Linked DNA regions of Homo sapiens. The protein of the gene in region 5 purifies or fractionates together with the protein of the main gene of each other region. This does not show direct contact. Each region holds a gene or a part of one and is shown on either strand. Other genes may lie near its edges.

Evidence for each region.
Region 1: the proteins of NSG2 (region 5) and ASAH1 purify together in Homo sapiens (affinity purification with mass spectrometry; one large-scale study listed by BioGRID and IntAct). This does not show direct contact.
Region 2: the proteins of NSG2 (region 5) and TMEM59 purify together in Homo sapiens (affinity purification with mass spectrometry; one large-scale study listed by BioGRID and IntAct). This does not show direct contact.
Region 3: the proteins of NSG2 (region 5) and ITFG1 purify together in Homo sapiens (affinity purification with mass spectrometry; one large-scale study listed by BioGRID and IntAct). This does not show direct contact.
Region 4: the proteins of NSG2 (region 5) and DNAJC16 purify together in Homo sapiens (affinity purification with mass spectrometry; one large-scale study listed by BioGRID and IntAct). This does not show direct contact.

Annotation. Positions count from the first base shown.
Region 1 is NC_000008.11:18,056,883-18,060,790, forward strand, and holds part of ASAH1 (acid ceramidase isoform a preproprotein), read right to left. Parts: intron 2,822-3,908; coding exon 2,690-2,821; intron 2,583-2,689; coding exon 2,459-2,582; intron 2,010-2,458; coding exon 1,953-2,009; intron 742-1,952; coding exon 652-741; 3' UTR 1-651. UniProt on the Homo sapiens protein: Lysosomal ceramidase that hydrolyzes sphingolipid ceramides into sphingosine and free fatty acids at acidic pH.
Region 2 is NC_000001.11:54,036,205-54,039,704, reverse strand, and holds part of TMEM59 (transmembrane protein 59 isoform 2 precursor), read left to right. Parts: intron 1-2,986; coding exon 2,987-3,095; intron 3,096-3,500.
Region 3 is NC_000016.10:47,153,081-47,157,853, forward strand, and holds the end of ITFG1 (T-cell immunomodulatory protein isoform 1 precursor), read right to left. Parts: intron 4,525-4,773; exon of another isoform or gene 4,475-4,524; intron 2,699-4,474; coding exon 2,639-2,698; 3' UTR 1,311-2,638; downstream 1-1,310. UniProt on the Homo sapiens protein: Modulator of T-cell function. Has a protective effect in graft versus host disease model.
Region 4 is NC_000001.11:15,528,852-15,533,951, reverse strand, and holds part of DNAJC16 (dnaJ homolog subfamily C member 16 isoform 1 precursor), read right to left. Parts: intron 4,865-5,100; 5' UTR 4,847-4,864; coding exon 4,680-4,846; intron 1-4,679. UniProt on the Homo sapiens protein: Plays an important role in regulating the size of autophagosomes during the formation process.
Region 5 is NC_000005.10:174,097,706-174,101,205, forward strand, and holds part of NSG2 (neuronal vesicle trafficking-associated protein 2), read left to right. Parts: intron 1-3,500.

The DNA.
Region 1 (3,908 bases), on a different chromosome or scaffold from region 5:
ATAAAAGATTGCTTTGCATACTGATTACTTCTTGAACCCCAAAAAGTGCTATTTAGAGGCAAGGGCCCATTTTGTGCCCATTAAAAGAAATATACAGGTGAATGTCTGTCTCATCCCTCTAATCATATGTAATAAAATTATATCGCTGTCAATAACAGCAAAGATAATGATATATTAATTTTAACAGCAGTTAGAACCAGAAGGAAAAGGCTGTTATACAGAAAAACATACAAATATGTAGGTAGAAGTGAAAAACTGAAGAATGTGGAGTGTTTACTGTCCCGTTACTCACACAGACGTGCTGGATTCAACACCCACGCTGAATCTCCATTTATTCCACGGAGGTGGAGTTCACCATGGTTCGACTGCCCACCAGATCCCCAAATGTCAAAGTGAAACAAAACTCAGTGAATTCTAGATGACTGTTTTACTTCCCCTAAAGAAGTTATCTGTAAATAAGAAAAATCAACTGATAGGGGGAAAAAAAAAAGATCTGTCATTTGTCAACAGATGGACGAAGACAAGCTATTGACTCAAAGAGAACCTGCCGCGAGTCTTAGTCTTTGGAAGGTCAGACAGCTGCAGTGTTCGGTCACATGGAGATGGTGTCTTCATGTCTCAGAGGCCGCATTCTGTAGGCCAGACGTGTGCTCACCAACCTATACAAGGGTCAGGGCAGTCCCGCAGGTAAGTTTCGAATTGACCTTTGGTAACATCTATCAAGGTTGTGTATACGGTCAGCTGAAAGAAAAGTTATTTTTACTTTAAGGACGTTTTCAATTCAGAGATGTTCTGATATATATTAGCATTTCTATACTTGTAGAATTTGCTTTAGAAGTTATTTAATATTAAATAATATAACTTAATATATGCAAAGCATGTTATATAATGTATATATTTATATTAATATAGTATAATCATATAAAATTAGCTAAAGTCTCACCAAATAACTAAAGCAAACAACTTCAACAGGATCACTGTTTCAGGTAATGAATATAAACAGGCTCAGGAAAGAATCTCCAGCTCCTTATAGGAGCTTATTCCTGACAGCACATTGCTCCACCCCCAATGCTTTAAGACTGCCTTAACCCTCCTTGACGCACAGCTGGCAGTCCTGGGAGACCTGCCGGTGTCCTATGGAGTAAAAACCGTGGAGCTTTGGCTATCCCTATCCTTAAAGCATTTCCAATACAGTGGGGGAAACTGCAGGCACCCAGATCACAAGGCACACACCCAAACACAAGTCACGAGATTGTGACTTGCTCAAAGATGGTATAGGCAAAACGCAAGTATGGCAGGGCCCGTGAACTGAAGGCAGGCTTCCTGTGAGAGCCAGGGTGACCTGGATGCTAAAGGCCGGAGGGATTTGTCCTGGCAGGGTAAAGGCGGCATGTTTACTTTAGGGAGAGCTGTGGAGAAGGACCAAGAAAAGAAGGAACAAATGGGAAAATTAGGGGGGCATATTCAGAACGTTCAGGGAATGATTGTTAGCGAGTGGTGGGATGATAGGAAACTTTTTGCATTTTTTTAAAACTACAGTGTAGGGAAAAGATAAACAGATGTAGTAAAGTTTAAGGGAAACCCGAACCCACCAAGACACAGAGCTCTGTCTGAAAATGGACTGCAGACTTTGTTTTGTTGACATTTAGGTGTTAGTTATATAGTGTGAGATTTTTAATAGATACCAATAAGAGTAAAATGCTAGCCTTAATTCAAATGCTATGTAAATAAAGCTATAAACAATATTCTGACCTATCAAGCCTCAGTGATCAATTTCTTTCTTGTATTCCAAAATACAGTTTTAGCCACACAAAAACATTTTTTAATAAAAAATCAGTCCTAAGCTGAACACACCTTTTGTGCTCAAACTGATCAAAGATAACAGAGAAAGATAAAACATAGGGCCAAATTCTTTCCCTAAAAGGCAAATATACATATAACATTTAAAATACCTTGTTGAGGACAGGTTTTGTTGACAGGACATCATACATGGTTTCAAATGAGATATTCTAAAACACAAGAAAATAGTTTTGTTCAGTAAGTTAAATACAGAAGCCAACAGCCTTATCTACACACATGGGCCACCAGAAACCAAGACATTCTTTAATCAACCTCCCCTCCATCCCCGCAGTGGAGTTTCTGTGGGAGTCACTGTTAGAAACACAGGTAACAGTTTTAATGGATTACTTTCCTCTCTCTCCTTCCCCTTTTTTAAATTCTTGCCTGTTTGTTATTCAACTTCAGAGTGGTATCCAGCATTAGAACCAGAAAAGGAAAGTACAGCACAATTTTGCTCTTTAAGTTAAGAAAACGAAACAAAAAAATCAGTGGAGAGTGGCTAGAGATACTATGAAAAATAGGACGTTTATAAATTACTTGAAGGCCAAAGAAAAATGCCAGAACCAAGGGAATCTTTAATGGCAACAGTTTCTTTCTATAGATGACCCTGCAAAGGTACCTCTTGGCTGGTGCGGTTCAGACACATCTTTGCAGGCGTTCTGCGATCATCAAGGAAGAAGGGATGTTTCCAACGGTCATAATTTGTTTGTACCACATACCATCTACCCTGCTTAGCATCGAGTCTAGATACAAAAGGAGAGATTCCCTCTTAGGCTACATGCCTTAAAACTCAAAGTATATCAGTGTATGCTTTTGTTTCTACTTCTTTTGCTTTAACAAACCTACTTACTCATATACATCCAATGATTCCTTTCTGTCTCGTGTAATCACACAACCTTCCCCAGACTGGTTGCCTCCCAGGATAAAGTAGGCTGGGGCCAATATCTTGGTCTTGGTCAATAAATTCTTGGCTTCTTCATAACTATATAGAAACATTTAAAAAGAAAAATGAAACTTTTTTTTAATTTTAGTAAATAACTTCATTTATTTTTAAATTTTACTTTAAGTTCTGGGACACATGTGCTGAACGTGCAGGTTTGTTACATAGGTACACACGTGCCATGGTGGTTTGCTGCACCCATCAACCCATCATCTAAGTTTCAAGCCCTACATGCATTAGGTATTTGTCCTAATGCTCTCCCTCCCCTTTCACCCCACCCCCTGACAGGCCCTGGTGCGTGATGTTCCCCTCCCTGTGTTCACGTGTTCTCTTTGTTCAGCTCTCACTTATGAGTGAGAACATGCAGTGTTCGGTTTTCTGTTCCTGTGTTAGTTTGCTGAGGATGATGGTGGGAAACATTTTTAGATGACTTAGAACGGAAATGTTTAGCTCTGTAGAAACTAAAGAAAAACAAGTATCTAAGGAATGTGTTATTTATTTATTTCTATTTTTAGAGATGGGCTCTCACTCTGTTGCCCAGGCTGGTCTCGAACTCCTTGGCACAAGCGATACTCTTGCCTTCGCCTCCCAAAGTACTGGGATTACAGGCATGAGCCACCATGGCCAGCCACAATGTGTTTTCTAAAAAAGGATGGTGAGCAATGCCTCTGGGAAAAGCAATCCCTGACCCTGTATGGTGAACACTGAGATGGGAAGCGGGAATCTTAGGAAGCCCCTCTAATCTGAAGGAGAAACAAAGTGGCCTCAAGAGATCATCTTCCACCCTTACTGTCCATGCCTTTCACTCAACAACAGAACAAAGGGAAATAATATTACAGTATGTAGGACTTAGAGAACAGAAAGTAAACCTTCTTGAAAATTAGGACTATTAAAAATTGAAGTGGGTTATCAAAGAACACTACTAACATTAAATCTTATTCCCTGGGAAGTATTAAAAATAGGATTGATGCCCATTTATTTGGACGCAGTGCTGGCTGAATGAAGGAAAGGCAGTTTTGCTATTGTAAGATTTCTATACCAAGGCAAGATATAACTTACAGGTTAATATGTAGTACATTTTGTATTTATTTATTTTGTTTTTTTAAGACAGAGTCTCACTCTATCACTC
Region 2 (3,500 bases), on a different chromosome or scaffold from region 5:
TGTTCATTCTAGTGGACTGTTCTATCTCAAGTATAAAACTGCAGTAGTCCAAATCACATGCTCCCTGTAATTTCTTATAGAAACAGTTTCTTGAGAGGTTTTATCATATATCATTACAATTATGTGGACCTTACAAATTAATACTTTTTACTAAGCAAAATGTTTAAAGACTATGTGAGAAAACAAGGATTAAACTTTAAATTTTATCCTTCGTTCATTTCTAAACCTGGTTTTGAGCTTGTCCAAAAAAGGGCAGTTTTTCTTTCCAGTATTTAGGATGTATGTTGCAGTTTGATAGTTCTGTGAAACCTAAATAATTATTTAATCTTAAGTTACAGTTCTCAGTACTGTACTACCTGGCATATTATTGGTGATTTATTGACCTTTAACATTTTGTCATTATATGTTATGTTGTTTTTTTACATCTAACACTTTAAAAGTAATTTTGTGAAGCAACTAACTTTATAATGTATTTATAGAAATGTATTTCTTAGAAGTTTCTGTGCCCAAACATAAATTATAATAGGATCCTACATTTGAATAAAAATTATTCTTTTGGCCGAGTGCGGTGGCTCATGCATGTAATCCCAGCACTTTGGAAGGCCAAGGTGGGAGGATCACTTGAGCCCAGAAGTTCAAGATCAGCTTGGGTAACATAGTGAGACCCCATCCATCTCTACAAAAAATAAAAAAATTAGCTGGACATGGTGGCACACACCTGTAGTCCCAGTTGTCAAGAGGCTGAGGTGGGAGAATCACTTGAACCCAGGAGGTTGAGACTGCAGTGAGCTGTGATCGTGCCATTGCACTGCCTGAGTGACAAAGCGAGACTGTCTCAAATTTTATTATTTTTTTAAGTGTTCTTTTTTTAAATGCTTTTTCCCCTTCAGTGATCCCATTTGACTTTTAGAACAATACCCTGTGATAAGTAGGTGGTGATTTAGAGAGGTGAATTGACTACTCGCAAGGTTATACAGTCACTATGTTAGCATTCAAACCTAATTTTTCTAACTGTACATCTTCTGCTCATCCTATTCTGCTGTAACTATTTACTTCCTAAAGTGTCATGATTTTTCCATGATTACATACAGAATCACTCAGCCAGTTATTGGAATCTGGTCGTAGCTGTTAAAGAGACACCCTTGTCTCCAGAATGGAAATTGAGGTCACTCTTTCTTCACTTGCATTTCTTTTTGAGGAGCCAGGCACTGTGCTAGGGAGTTGAGACCTAGTAAAGATGTCAGGAGTTCTCAGATCTAAACAGACATGGACAATAATGATTGCTATACACACACACAGTCCTACACATGTCTCATACACAGCATATAAGGACTGTATTTAAGTCTACTGGAGGTTTCAAGGGGAGGATTGACAGGTGAGATAGAAATATCTCAAGTGATGAGTAGAAATTTTTGCTAGTTATAGCAGAAGATTTACTTAAAATTTTTTTTTCAGATATACTGGCCTCCTGCTCAATGTGTATAGGGTACATTACTATATATGGAGGATAAGGAGAGTCAGAAATTTGACTGAACTGGGAAAACAGGAATAGAGAGAATCAGGAACATAAGTGTCAAGAAGAGGCTTCTATGTGAAGGATAGATTAGAGGACCAGGTTGGAGAACTTTGGTAAATCAGGGAAGAAATTATGAGGTCTGGATTAGGGCAGTAGATAAGAACAGGAGATAATGGAGATAGTTGAAAATCTGTAGGATCTAGTCATTGTTTTGTTGTGGAGATTGAAGGGATGAGCCCCAGTTTTCTGGCTTAGGTAGTTGCTACTGGAATCTAGATATCAAATATATCCTCATTTTGTGGTAAATTCCTTAGTACTCAGGTTACTTAGGGCTGGAACATGGAGAGGAAAGTGGGTATTTGTTCATTAAAAACATATTTTACTCTATTATCTTTCTAAATTGGATACTTAAAGAATCATATGGGAGTTCCCTGCTTTTAGATACAATACATTCTCCAAAGTCCACCTCTTTTGCTGGCAGACAAACAATGACTGTGCTTACTGCATGTTCAAGTCTTGGCAAACTATCAAGTGAGTGATTAGGGTGGTAAGTATAGATCTCTTACTAGGCAGTGTTGGATGAGCAGAGATGTGAAAATTAGGGAGTATCTGTATTACACAGTTTGTCAGAGTTAGACTTTTAATTATTTAAAAATGGCTTGACTTTTTCCTATTCTTTGAATCTTAATAGGTCAATTATGAAAAAAACTCCAGGTGGGAGAATGGCTTGCGCCCATGAGTTCAAGGCCAGCCTGGGCAATATAGTGAGAGCTTGTCTCTATAAAAATTCAAAATAAATAAAAATAAATAAAAAATCTCTAATTGCTGATTCTCATAACTGGCCTTCTGTCTTAAGATATTTTAATTATAAGGAAAATATAACTATCTCTTTACTGAGATATGCTGTAATGGTTACAGAATGCCTTATAATAGCTGTGCTTTTTTAAATTGAAGTATAAGTAAATTATGGCAAATTGAATATGTAAAGTATTCTAGGGAAACTGACTTCTGGAAGCCTGGTGTGAATTCTTTTATAAAACAAATGATCATTTTAAATTTACCTATTCTATACCTTAACTTTTTGGTATATTGGTTTTCTTAAAGCAAGTATCGTAATAACTTGCAAAATAATATATGACATTTGTACAACAGTGTACAATTTACAGGACACTTTCACTTGCCTTATATATTTAGCAGAAAGTCAAGTATATCTGATTTTATTATTATTACAAAAGTGATATAGCCATGTTACAGAAACATTAGAAGTGGAGGAAAAAGACTTTATGCCAACCTAATGTAATAGCTATTAGTATAATATTTCCTTCTGTAAGTATGTTTTTTAATAGTTTCAAAGATAACCAACAAAGTTTTAATTGTACTGTTGAGCTAAGTACATAAGGTTGACTAATTAAGAATTTCCTGTTTCTTATAAAATTTTAATATAACTAATTGTTGATTTTTTTTTTCCAGTAACTCTGGGTGGATTTTAACTACAACTCTTGTCCTCTCGGTGATGGTATTGCTTTGGATTTGTTGTGCAACTGTTGCTACAGCTGTGGAGCAGTATGTTCCCTCTGAGGTAAATTTAATTCTTACCATTTGAAGACTGAGCCCTGTGATATATCATTTTAAACACCTTATTTGTTTAGCTGGAAAAACAAGGCCTTTCTACTAATAGAAAGAGAGAAGATGTGGTGGTTTTAATGTGGTAGAGGTTGGCACACATAAAAATTACAGGTTTGCAGCACAAGAATTGTTGTTCTCAGCTTTCTGTGATGCTAACTACCGTGGTGACATATATGTTGACTGGCTTGAGAACGGTGTCTCTTTCTGACTCTCTAAGACTGAAAAGACCTGTTGACATCAGTTTCTAGGGGATATATGGGAAAGAAGACTTTTTTTTTTTTTGAGGCAGAGTCTCATCTGTCACCCAGGCTAGAGTGCAGTGGCCAGGATCTTGGCTCACTGCAACCTCTGCTTCCTA
Region 3 (4,773 bases), on a different chromosome or scaffold from region 5:
TTTGTACCAGTTTTCCTTTTCTTGTTAGAGGCCTTTGGGGCAGCCTGTGCCCTATAACTGATGAATGTGGGAATGTAAAGGCCCAGCCTTCATATTCTAACTTGGGACAGGTTAGGAGATAGGAAAGGTCATCCTATCTCAGAACTCGATGTAGGGTTGTATGAGGCATTTCATTGAGAATGCATCACAGTTCAATTTTTCTGCCTAATTTTGTTTCCTTCCTTTCCCTTGTACGGTTGTGGATCAAAAGCACTGCCTAATCTACTGTCTATTTAATTAGCCTTTTAAAATAACTGGTCAGGTGCAGGTAATCACAAGGGCTGGTTTTAATTCACCTTTATCCTGAGGAGTAAGCCCTTAAGTATCCTAGATCAATCCCAGGTATACCATTGAGGTCTGCGGGACATGATTTAAGTTTTTGTTTCTTTTTATGAGGTATTCTAGCTACTTGCAAGGATGGGGAAATGTAAAGGGCTAGTTCAAATAAATGGTGTATTAACATATTTACAGTATCTTCAAAATGATTATGAATTCTTAATTACTCTTCCTAGCTCCCCAAGGATGGATAACACTAACATATAGTCAGTGGGAAAGAAATCTCAGAAAATAACTGTTAGTTTGTCACTGTCATGGGAAATGGGAAGGAAGAAAAACAGCACTTATCAAGCATCTTCTGTGTACAAACTGCCATTTCAGACTCAGAGCAGTCCTTGAAGGTAGGTATCACTCATTACCTTTGTTTTACAGATGAAGAAACCAAAGTTCAAAGAAGTGACTGATTCAGAGTCATGAAATCGGGGAGCTGGGCCCTGAATCCAGACTGGTCTGACTTCAAAGCCTTGCTCTCTTTCCACTGCAATATTCAAAATCAAAACAAAGGTTTTTGTTAGTGATTCTCAATGTTGTGATACATTTTTTACCTGCTGTCCCTTAATAAATGATATTAAAGTTGCATTTGGAAATACAGAAGCAGTATTAATGTCACTGATTGTAGTTTTAATTGTCATTAACATTTTATTTGTCTTGTAAACTCTGATTCACATGAGTTTGAAGACTCAGGCTATATCAATAATGATCCCAATTATCTTTGAGAAAGTGTCACGTAGTGCCTGGGACAGTGCTGTGGGCTGATAACTAGTGAATTTAACTGAGTATTACAGTCAGGAGAATCCTATCTTGCCCGTGACCCACAGAGAGGCAGTGGGCAAGTCACCTTACCCTGGTCTCCCAGTCCAGATAAATGCTTTCATAAGCTCTAAGGTCTCTTCATGCTCTAAAATAATTATTTAAAAACTCACTGAAATACTTTGTTTCAATAAGGAATATTTATTAAGAAGACATGTTAACATGCTTAGATACAAAGTAAAAACACATGCCAATCTCAGTGAACTATAAAGAAAAAAATAAGAACAAAATTGTTTTCAGAGAAATTTTTGTGTTTTATAGGCATCACATGTCCATTTGCATACTAGAAAATTATTAGCATTGATAAACTTTTTTTTTTCAGTCTTAAAGTCTTTTTAAAGTAACTTTTTGGAAATGTGAAGTTCACAATACAAAATTTGCATTGAAGTCTGAATGTAAATTATAGACTTCTCCAAGTGTTTGAGAATAGAAATGTGATTGAAGATTTGCATTCCCAGATGCTGCCTACAGCAGTTTCCTTTCAAGAAATCAAATGTTCTTCATTATCACATGATAAGGATAAGTTTTTGGAGGAAAATTTTTAGGGCACATTAATTCTTGGAGAGTACTATAATTTTTAGTTAATATGAGCAAGTAAATCTTTATGTCAATCACCAAAAATTTAGCTTTTCCAAAGAATATTTCTTCATGCCTGAAAATAAAATTCTATCAAGTCTATGTATTTCTATAATTAGATGTATAAGTCTAATAAGATCATCTAAAATATTAATAATGACAACTACCACATATTGACCACTTACTCTGTGCTAGGCACCAAGCTAAGCACTTCACATACATCATCCCATTTAATGTTTACAGTAACTCAAGTATTAGCCCCACTGAATAAACAAGAAAACTGAGGTTTACAGAGGTTAAACAAGAGCCAAGTTCAAACAATGACTTTGTAAGTGGTTGAATTAGGAGTTTAAGGCAAGTCTGTCTTACTGTGCTACCAAGTCAGAGTACCCGATCACTATATTGTATGCCATCAGTGAGACCCCTGACCTGCTGTGATGAAGCTGAATGCCTAATGACTCCGTGATATATTCACAAAAGTATAATTTGCATCATTAGAATAAGAAGCAAGACCAAGTCAAGTGGACACAAAAATTCCTGCTCATTTAATTATTTTTATTTACACAACTTTTTCCATCATCATGATGCAAATAAGATTATAAATACACAAACACTGGAGTACATGCAACACATTCCACAAAGGAACAAAAATGTACAGCACTACAGAATAGAGAACCCAAATTTTTATATACAAAGTGCTTTAAAAAAAAAGACCTTGTGACATATTCAAACCATATTTATTTGAATACTTTCCAATAATTACCATGGGATACATCATTTATAAATAATATTTAATCTCCCCTATTTTTTCAAGCCAGAATTTGTGTTTCAACTAATCAAGTGAACAGCCATTCCATTATGTAATATTAAAGGCAAGTCACATAGCATCAAAATGAAACCGGTGGGCTTCTTGTCGTTTTTCTCTATCATCTGCTTTCTGAAAAAGAATTTTAGACTCGTTTATAAATGGTAGAAAGATGTTATGAAAAGACTCATTTCTGAAATACACAGTGATTCATTTTTAAAAGTCTCCAGCAATTAGCAGATAATAGATATGATTTCCTAATTCAACAGTCCTAGTATTTTTGTAGTTTATAGTAGCTATTTTATAATTAATGATCTAATTGATTAAAAAACAATAAATACTTGAATACTTAAGGCACATTAAATACTTAGGGTCCTTAAATACTTAGCTTCTTATCATTTATTATCTACTTGAAAATAGGAATAAGTATTAGATTCTATAAGGATGAATCAATGATTGCATTTTTCTGTCATTTTTAACAATGATGTTAATAAACAAATCTAATGGCTGGGTGTGGTGGTGGCTCATGCCTGTAATCCCAGCATTTTGGGAGGCCAAGGAGGGCAGATAACTTGAGGTGAGGAATTCGAGACCAGCCTGGCCAACATGGTGAAACCCCGTCTCTACCAAAAAAATACAAAAATTAGCTGAGTGTGGTGGTGGGCACCTGTAATCACAGCTTCTTGGGAGGCTAAGGCAGGAGAATCGCTTGAACCCAGGAGCGGAAGTTGCGGTGAGTCAAGATTGCACCACTGCACTCCAGCCTGGGTGACAGAGTACTAATGTACTAATTATTTTTTCATTAACTTGTCAATTTAGCAGATATTCATTGGCCCTTTGCTTCTAATACTCCCAATACCAATACTGTGTTTGCTATTTTAATATTAAAAAAACCTCCGTTTTGTATCTTGTTCTCCAAAAAGACAAATGCAAAACATATTGTATAACTGTAGTTCAAGATAAAAAGTGAAAAATGTTACCAAGTCTAAGAGACTACTTCTAGATCCGGGTGAGGAAAGGGAAAGCTTTGAAAAGACAGGGAAAGCATTTGAAAGTATGGAAATGGGGAGAGTGGTATTCACTCCAAGCTGGGGTTACAACATGATCAATCATGAGAAGGCTGGAAGGAGCACGGATATGTGAAAGCAACTGGTAAAAAATACGACTGTGGAGTCACATGGAAGTCATATGCAGGCCAGGCCAAGGATTTTATACATAAAAGGCAATGGATATTCACTAGAGCTTTTTCAGCAGGGGAGTGACATGATGAAGGCTAAACAGAATGAATCACTGGCAGCAGTGTGCTAAATGGAATGGAAAGGGGAGAGAATGGAAAGGGGAGAGAACGGAAAGAAAGAGACCAAGTAGGATGTAAGAAGGGGCAGTGCAGTAGGAATGTAGAAGTGGAGTCAGCTGTAGAACTTCTTACAGAGGCAGAGTCCATAGGCAAGTGATGAAATCTTGTAGGTTAAGTAAGAGAGATGAAGCTTTAGAATGCTGGTTTTGAGGTGCTGTAAGTCATCTAGGTTGAGCTATCATGGTGACAGTTGGAAATGGGGAAGGACCTTTAGAGATGAGAGCTGGGGATATCTGAAGCCATGATTTTAGATGAAATTGGCAGGGAAAGTGTTGAAAGAAGAGGGCCAGGGGCAGACACTGGGGAAAGCCTGCATTGAGAAAATGGTAGAAGGAGCCAGCCTGCTTAAGTAAAAAAGTGGTTAAAGAGGTTCTACCTCTTTGAGATACCACAGTGCCACAGGAGATACAGTATATATATAGTCAAATATATACTTGTACTTAAAACTTTCATTTTTGGCCACTGCATAATTATTGTTATAAGCACGCAATGTTTATGCTGTAATCAGATCTACTGAGGAATTAATGAAATTCATTTCCTTTGCTTCACAGGTCAAGAACTGTGGAATCTTTCAGATGATATTCTGATACTTCTGGACCAAGTATGTATGGTTGTCCTTGATCTTACTCTTAAGTTGCAATCTTAAGGTTAATTGAATATGTAACTTCATGTTACTGTTTTTGATATGTAAAGGAGTGATTTTTTAAAAGTGACAAGCCTATGAGCATTTATAGAACAACTAATATGTTCTTTTTCATATGTTAAAAGAACAAACACGGTAATTCTAGCAAAAAATGATTATGATGGCATGTCAATCCAGAGTGTAGGTGCAAAAAAAGAAAAACACCTT
Region 4 (5,100 bases), on a different chromosome or scaffold from region 5:
TACACTGCTCCCAAACACTGCTAAAGCTGGCTGAAGGCTAAGTCGTTTATCCATAAGAACCCATGTCTTCTCCTAGGATGGCAACGTTTCATCCCAATGCTAGAATGATATCAGGATGCTAGAATGCTGTTGTTTCTTCTGATAACACAGGTAGACATGAGAAATAGCTTTTAGGATAGACTAAATTCATTTAGTAACAATCAGGTTTCAAACTGCACTTGTGCCTGACTTTCAAATTAGAACATTTTTCGTTATTATTACGATTGCTTTTTACCTGGATAAAGATTTCAAGGCCACTGTTTTTTTTGTTTTTTTGTTTTTTTTGAGACAGGGTCTCACTCTGTTGCCCAGACTGGAATGCAGTGGTACAATCTTGGCGCACTGCAACCTCTGCCTCCCAGGCTCAAGCGATTCTCTTGCCTCAGCCTCCCGAGTAGCTGGGATTACAGGCCTGCGCCACTATCACCCGGCTAATTTTTGTATTTTTAGTAGAGATGGGGTTTCACCATGTTGGCTGGGCTGGTCTCAAACTCCTGACCTCAAATGATCCACCTGTCTCGGCCTCCAAAAGTGTTGGGAATACAGGCGTGAGCCACCACGCCCGGCCTCAATGCCACATGTTTAACATTTTTTGCCATGTTGTCCAGGCTGGTCTCAAATTCCTGGACTCATGCCATCCTCCTGCCTTGGCCTCCCAAAGTGCTGGGATTACAGGTGTGAGCTACCACACCCGGCCAGCTTTGGAGATTTTAAAGTTCTCGATAGTAAGGGCTAGGTTTAATTCCTTGAAAGCCCCTAAGACCTAAATCAGTGTTTTATATGGACTGATTTTTCAATGTTCACTTTAAGAGACTTTGTATGACAGTATTCTTTACATAATCACTTTTGGTAACTTCTAGTAAATTTCCTCTGACATAGGTTCTGGAAAGAAAAACAATTCACTGGGAAGCAAATGACTATTAACGATACACCAAGCACATTGGAATAAAAAAAAATCTACAACTTAATGGATTTATTCTAGCAGGAATGTGTTTGAATGAATTATACCACATATTCTGATTTCTCTACAAATAAGGAAACTCCAAATTGTTGACTGCTGAGTTTAAAAATCATTCCTTCCTTAACCATTTAATCCTTGCTATGAGTATTAGTGGGGGAAAAAAATCTCAGCTAGTCATAATGAAAACAGCATGACTTAAGGAAACGAGATGGAGACTCCAAAGCATTTCTGGATGACAAAAAAAAACACAAAAATACCAACAAAACCAACCCATCAACCAAACCATCAGGCTGACGACTGAGTGGATCAAAAATTATGCAATCATACAAATGAAGATTTAACATATAGAACTCTGTAGAAGAAGGGTAGGAAGGGGCTTTTTAGGAGAATGAACCAAAGAGAGAGTCTTGAGGGCAGCTAGGTTAGAAAACACAGATCCTGAAACAGAGGAGGGCAAGGCTGAAGAACAGGGAGGAAACCACAGCACTTTCAGCTGTATTCATACGGAATACTTTCCTAATTGTGGGAAGACACCACAAGGTTGAAAACATAAAAAAAAAAATTCAGCCATAGGAAAGTATTGTCCAATGCTATTTTCAGTTAATATGAAATTATTTCAGGAACTGCAATATAATACACAATCTTTAAAATTCAAAGTAGAGGAAATATTGCGTGTAGTATCTACTGGCTCTCTAGTTACCTCTTAAAGGAATAAAAACAAAGATAGAGAAGGTAATACAGCAAAGAATTACACAAAATAATTTACTGTTAGTTTATTGCATAACCACGTCACACCAATCTGCCATTCTTTGGGTGGGAGGAGTTATTTCTTTTGCTAATGTGGATAACAAACAAAAAGTACCTACGATAAAACTTAATTATTGGGAGAAAAACATAGTTTTCCTAAGGGAAAAAGTAAAGTCAAATGGTTTCACCAAGCAAAGTAAAATTCTTAAGCAGTCTAAGAAACACTTAGTAAAATGTATCAGAGGAAGGCTCCAGATCCAACTCAACAAGTAACCACTTCCCCCTGCTATAGCTCATTCTGAAAAGTCAAACTGGGAAACACTGCTATTTTCAGTGTATATCAAGCCATTAGTAAGCAAAACTTAAACTATTCCAAGTGACAAAGCATTGTCATAGCCAAAACCGCAGAAAATAATAGTAGAGCAAAATTAAAAACGTAAAGTAAAATTTTAGACTTTTACTGGATGACACACTCAATACACTTCTATGGTGATGAATTATTCCTAGAGAGAATCTAATTAAAAAAGAGAAGAATATGACTCATTTAATTAATATCATAACACCCTTTTCAGCTCTGGAAGACAGAAAAGTCAAAGCTATACATTTTAATAGGTCCCACATACTCAAGCTGTCACTTGTGTTCTTAAAATATTGTCAAAGGCTATGCCTTGTCCAAAAGAATGTTGTTACCTTATGAATTTGCTGCAGATTTATATATCCTGCTTTAAACATAAAGAGGCAAGAGTCTGAAATGATGTAGAACATAACCTTGGTATAAAGAGTCCCTGGAAGGAGGTCATGTATAATTAGAGATTGCTTCTTTGGCATCCAATTCTGGATTTCTCATGGAATATGGTCTAAAACATTTATTTTAAAAATATATTTTCAATGATCTTTACCTTTATTTCAACCAGTTTAATGCTAAAATATACCTGTTCACTGAAGCAGAACAGTGTCAGGCGCAGTCACGCATGCAGTCTGTACCATGCATCACCTCAATGTGGCAGTTTTGCTTCTGGATAACTTCCTACTCGCATTCAGCTCCTCCCCAGCCAACCATTAGCCCACTCACCCTTACTCATGCCTAGATGTGTAAATGATTAAAAAACAATAAAGCAATGGACTACTGATGCAGAGGGTCAAACTACGGAACCCAGAGGTACCACAGATTTACCAACTCTAAGCCTCCATCTTCTCATCTATAAAACAGAGACACTGGCCGAGCATGGTAGCTCACGTCTGTAATCCCAGCACTTTGGGAGGCCGAGGTGGACGGATCACTTGAGGTCAGGAGTCTGAGACCAGCCTGGCCAATATGGCAAAACCCCGTCTCTACTAGAAATACAACAATTAGCTGGGTGTGGTGGTGCACGCCTGTAGTCCCAGCTACTTGGGAGGCTGAGTCAGGAGAATCCCTTGAACCCAGGAAGCGGAGGTTACAGTGAGCCAAGATTGTGCCACTGCATTCCAGCCTGCGTGACAGAGCGAGACTCCGTCTCAAAAAAAAAAGAGATACTGATATCCTCCTTCATAGGCTCATTATAAGGTTTAAATGAGATAAAAAGTATAGAACCAGGAGATTAGCATGTAGTAGGTGCTCAGTGATGGTACCTGTCCCAAACTTTCTTCCATTCCTCATGGTTGGTACAGCCAGCTTGGAGTCACCTCTGTCCTTTCCTCCTTCTGCTGCTCCCCCTCCATCTATATAATCCAACACTTCTGCTTCTTTGGCATGGCCAAGGCATTGGTGGAAGAAACTGATGATATTTGTCCAAAGTTTTAGATTTATTGCTACCCTGCTAATTGCTATCCTGATAACTACAGGCAAAATTACAATTTTCTGTAAGTTTTTTTTTTTGAGACGGGTCTCACTCTGTTGCCCAGGCTGGAGTGCAGTGGTGTGATTATAGCTCACTTCAGCCTCAAACTTCTGGGCTTTTTTTTTTTTTCCATAGTGATGAGGTGTCACTATGTTGCCCAGGCTGGTCTCAAACTCCTGGGCTCAAACGATCCTCCCACCTCAGCCTCCCAAAGTGCTGGGATTACAAACATGAGCCACCATGCCAGGCCAATTTTTTTTTTTGAGTAATATATAGTCAGCCCTCTATATCTGTTGGTTTCACATCCATGGATTCCACCAACCAAAATATAATATTTTCTATTTTGAAATATTCAAAAATATTTTTAAAAAATTGCATTGTACTGAACATGTACAGACTTTTTTCTTGTCATTATTCCTTAAACAATAACAGTATAACAACCATTTGCACAGCAGTTACATTGTATTAGGTATTATAAGTAAGCTAGAGATGATTTAAAGTATATGAGAGGACGTGCATAGATTATATGCAAATACTATGCTATTTTATATAGGGACTTGAGCATCCAATGACTTTGGTATTTCTGGGGATCCTGGAACCAAGACCTCATGGATATCAAGAGACAACTATCCTTGGTTTCTGAATTTTTTTTTTTGGAGGCAAAAGGCTATTACTCTTAACTTTTTTTCAAAGTGTAGAAATTAATAATTTAGAGAATAGGGTTGTATAGTGTTCCTGTTTAGCAATTACACTCATAAAGTTACTTTATGAATAATGTATCATGGGAAGGGTAGCATATCCATTATTGACTATATATACATTTTTTTAAAATTAAAACTTGTTACTTTAACATTAAATATGCTAACAGTATCTAAGGCAATTCTTTAAGCCAAAGTATTCCTAAAAGGGAGTTTCAGAGTAAACATAGGCTTTGGATCTTATCGCTAACAATTATAGAACATGAACATTAGCTCTCCTGCGTAAAATATTTTAGACAGATATATATATTGAACATAGAAACAGAGACAAATAAAAGCTAGTCATAATTTAGACTTCATCCCTGCTAAGACTGTTTAGCTTATGTTAAACCTCTATTTCTTTGTTTCACCTACCATTCCCGGGCGAGCTTCTTATAAGCCTTTTTAATATCAGCCTGACTGGCTGTTCGGCTGACCCCTAGGACTCTGTATGGGTCAAAATCCAACGCAGACAGAATTTGCAGGATCAGAACCAGAACTATCAAGAACTGCCAGGAAATGCTCAACTTTCTCACTTCCATTTCTCTTCCTTTCCAGAGCTGAAATGATTGAAGAGGCAATGAGTTTCAGTGGCAGAAACCTGGACAGTCTTGCTTTTTAGGTAAAGGTATAAGATATATAGATGAAAAACAAAACCAACAAAAGGTATTTTGCAGGAAAAGTGTCAAGCTGTTGAACTGTATCTTAAAATAAAAATCTCGCTACTGCTTTTGAATATCACAAATGAGAACTATTACAGATGAAAAGATGAGTAATAAGAATAGCAACTCTCCAG
Region 5 (3,500 bases):
TTTGTGTGTGTTTGTCTCTGTGTGTGTCTCTGTGTCTGTGTGTGTGTCTGTGTCTCTGTGTGTGTACCTTTCTCTCAGTGTGTGTGTCTCTGTGTGTGTGTGTAACTGTGTGTGTGAGTGTGTCTCTTTGTGTGTGTCTGTGTGTGTGTGTGTGTGTGTATGAGTGTCTGTGTGTCTGTCTCTCTGGTCTTAATTCAACTCAACACTGCAGGTCAGGAAATGTTTCTGATCCCCACTTTGTATGAGTCACTACTGGGCACAGAGAAAAGGGTGCGACTCGCTTGCTGCCCGAGGCCTTCCCAGCAGAAGGTGGCTGGTAGGCGAGAGGGGTGATGGGGATGCAGTGTGCTCCTATGGAGGAGGAACTGGAGCAGGCCCCAGCTACACAGCAGGGATGGATTAGGGGTTCAGGGCTGGAGCTGAATGCTGAGGAGATGTTCTCCTTGCTGAGGAAAGGCACACAGGGGCTCCAGGCCTGGCCCAAGGCCCAGAGAAGCAACTGCAGGAGCTGTCAGGGTGCTGGGGCTGGAGGGGACAGTGTGAACCAGTGGGGAGAGGTACATGAGACTGGAGGGTGGTTGAGGGGGTGCAGGCTGAGCAAAGATGTTACCCCGACAGCACCAGGGCTGCCTCTGTGGGGAGCTACTGTCTTGGGCAGGACAAGGGTGATATTGGCCTCCAAAGCCCTAGGGGGCTGGACCCTGCTTTCCTTCCAGCCTCACCTCAGCGTTCTCTCCTTGTCCCCTTCGTCACAGCCAGACTGCTTCTTCCAGGCCCTCTGGAACCTCGAGCTCCTCTTCCTTGTAGGATCTCTGGGCGTCCTAGAATGCTGCAATGCTCTGGCCCGGGGTTGCCTGGAGCCCAGTCCCCTCTCGCTTCCAGGACCACCCCGTCAAAGGGCCCCCCTCGTGTGCTCTGTTCAGACCACATTCAGTGCTTGGTTTGTGGTTATTTCTTTGGTGAATTGCTCATTGAATGTCTCACTCTCTCCCTCCTGTGAACTCCTTGAGGCAATGGCTGTGCACAGCATCCGGCTCACAGTAGGCCCTTTAGTAGACTCTCAGTGAGCGGACGATGAGTGGCTGAGTGAGTGGATGAGGGGAGACGGGTGCAGAGAGGGTGATTCCGTGGTGAGGACTGTGCCTGTAATGAAACCCTCCAATGTAGCGCTGGAGAACTAGCGAGCTGTTTATCGCGAGGCTCAGGTTGTTAAATTCAAGAAGTGAAACCAAGGGCTTTAGAACGTCTCTGAGGATGGAGGTTATATAAACCGAGTCAATAAATATTGATGTGGAGTCCGGCTTTCATGTTCAGAGGTGCTTTGTGGGGAGGTGGGAGTTTCTCTCCCCGACCCTCTTAGGCTCACCCGGCATGGCGGGAGCTTTGTTGCAGGGATCAGGCACGTAGGCCCCTGAATTTCACAAATCCACCAGAAAGGGAGGCCGGGGAGGCTGGGTCCAGCAGGATGCCTCGCAGAACTGAAACCTGCCTGTAGGAAATCTCGCCCTGGAACCAAACCAGGACTCTCCAGCTCCCGCCCCACCCCAGCAACCATTGACAACTGCATCATCCAGAATCCAGAAAGCTCACCAGTGGAACTCGCCGGCCTGAGCCGGCCCTTCCTCCTCTTGTCTCGCAGTGCTGTGCTCACCTCTTATGCCATCTTAGGCCATTGACTCCACCCCACTGCCCCGTCTGGCCTCAGCACCTGGGACACGCCCTACTACATCAGCCTTCCCACTGGCCCCCTTGCCTTCAGCCATCCCCCTGCAAACATGCCTCCTGTTGCCCCCAGAGACATCACTCCAAAACATAATTCTCACCTTGTCGCTTCCCTGCTTAGAACTGTCACTGGCTCCCTGTTGTCCTTGAGATCAAGTCCAAGTGTAATCTGTTCTTTGCCCCCTGCCCAGGCCCCCAGGCTTCCCCATCACTCACACCCCTTGGGCCAGCCATGCCAAGGCCTGTGATGCCTCTAGAACAGCCTGTGTGCTCTCCACGTTCTTTCCAGGGCTGATGCCATTTCCTCTGCTCAGAGCCTTCTTCCCCTCATCCTAATGTTCTTCCATGAAGTCACTTATGATGTCACATCCCCCAGGAGGACGTCCCTGATGCCCCCGCCCCCAGGTTGATTAGGTCCAGCAGCCCCCTGTGCTGATGGCCTCAGTCATGGTGTCACCTCTGCGTTGCAAGTGTCTACACCCATCAGTCCATCTCTTCCTCCCCCTGTAGACTGTGAGGTCTCAAGAAAGAGCCTGTGCCTGATTCACCACAACGTACTCTCTGACCTCCCCAGACTCTTAGGGAATGATTGGCCTTCAGTTGCAGAAGTTACCAAAATTCAGGACAGGGAGGCAAACTCTCCTTCAGCTAAGACAGCCTCCATTGAGCCTAATTCTGGGGTCATGGAGCATGTGGGGTGGCCTGGCAGAAGTTAGCCCTGCTTGGGCAGAATCCCATGGGCTGGGCTGCACCCGTAGCAACCAGTCAGCATTAGACCCTTGACTCTGACAGTCACGGAGGACACCCCAGCAAGTGTCAGCACACAGGACTGCTTGCATGTGGGGAACCACGTGGGGGCTTCGAAACATGCTGAGGCCTGGACTGCACCCCCAGAGATTCTGGTGTAGTTGGTTTGAGATAGGGCTAGAGCTCCAGGATCATTTGAAACGTTTGAATCCCAGGGGATTCTAACATGTGCAGCTGCTTGAGAACCACTCACAGCTAGTCCTACTAGAGCAGCGCTTCTCTTCCTGGTTACACACGGTAATTACCTGGACAGCCTTGTCCTGGACCCATGGAATTAGAATCCATGGGGGTGGTGACAACCTAGGCATCAGCATTTCCGAGCTCCTCAGCTGCTTCTAATGTGAAGCAGGGTTTGAAACCACTACCTCCAACGTACCTCCCTCCCTCCCTTTTCTTTTTCCAGAAGCATTTGCTGGAGGCCTGCTCTGTGCTCGTGCTCTCTAGCCCTGGTGGTGCTTTGGTGAATCAGCCCCTGCAGTTCCTATTTGGGATTTCTTAACTCAGGGGACGTTAGCAGTGGAAGAGCTCACCCTGTAAAGGGAACCTGTCCCACAGGCAGGCTTGCTGGGTCCTGCACCAGCTCCTAGTGCCCCTTTACTAACCTGCTGTTGGCCAGGGGCCTTATCCAGCCCTGTCTGGGCACGTCCATACCCATGTTGGGAGGTCTTGCCCAGCTCCTGAGTCTCTCAAGAGGCCTGGGACTCTGCCTAGGCAAGGTTTGGGGTTGCACATGGTCATTGGGATGGGAAGCTTTCCAGCAGCTCCCTCAGACCCTGCATCAGGCTGGAGGCAATGGCAGGCTGGGGCTGAGGCTCTGAACTCCCTCCTGAGCATGCACGAGCTCGACAGCTGCACTGTAGTCTGTGGATGAGCCTGCGACTATAGGCAACTCTCTTGGCTGGGCCCAGGTGTGTTCTCTTTGAGGGGAGGGGATGCCAGCAGGATTTTAATATCCCTTTAACAGAAAGGGT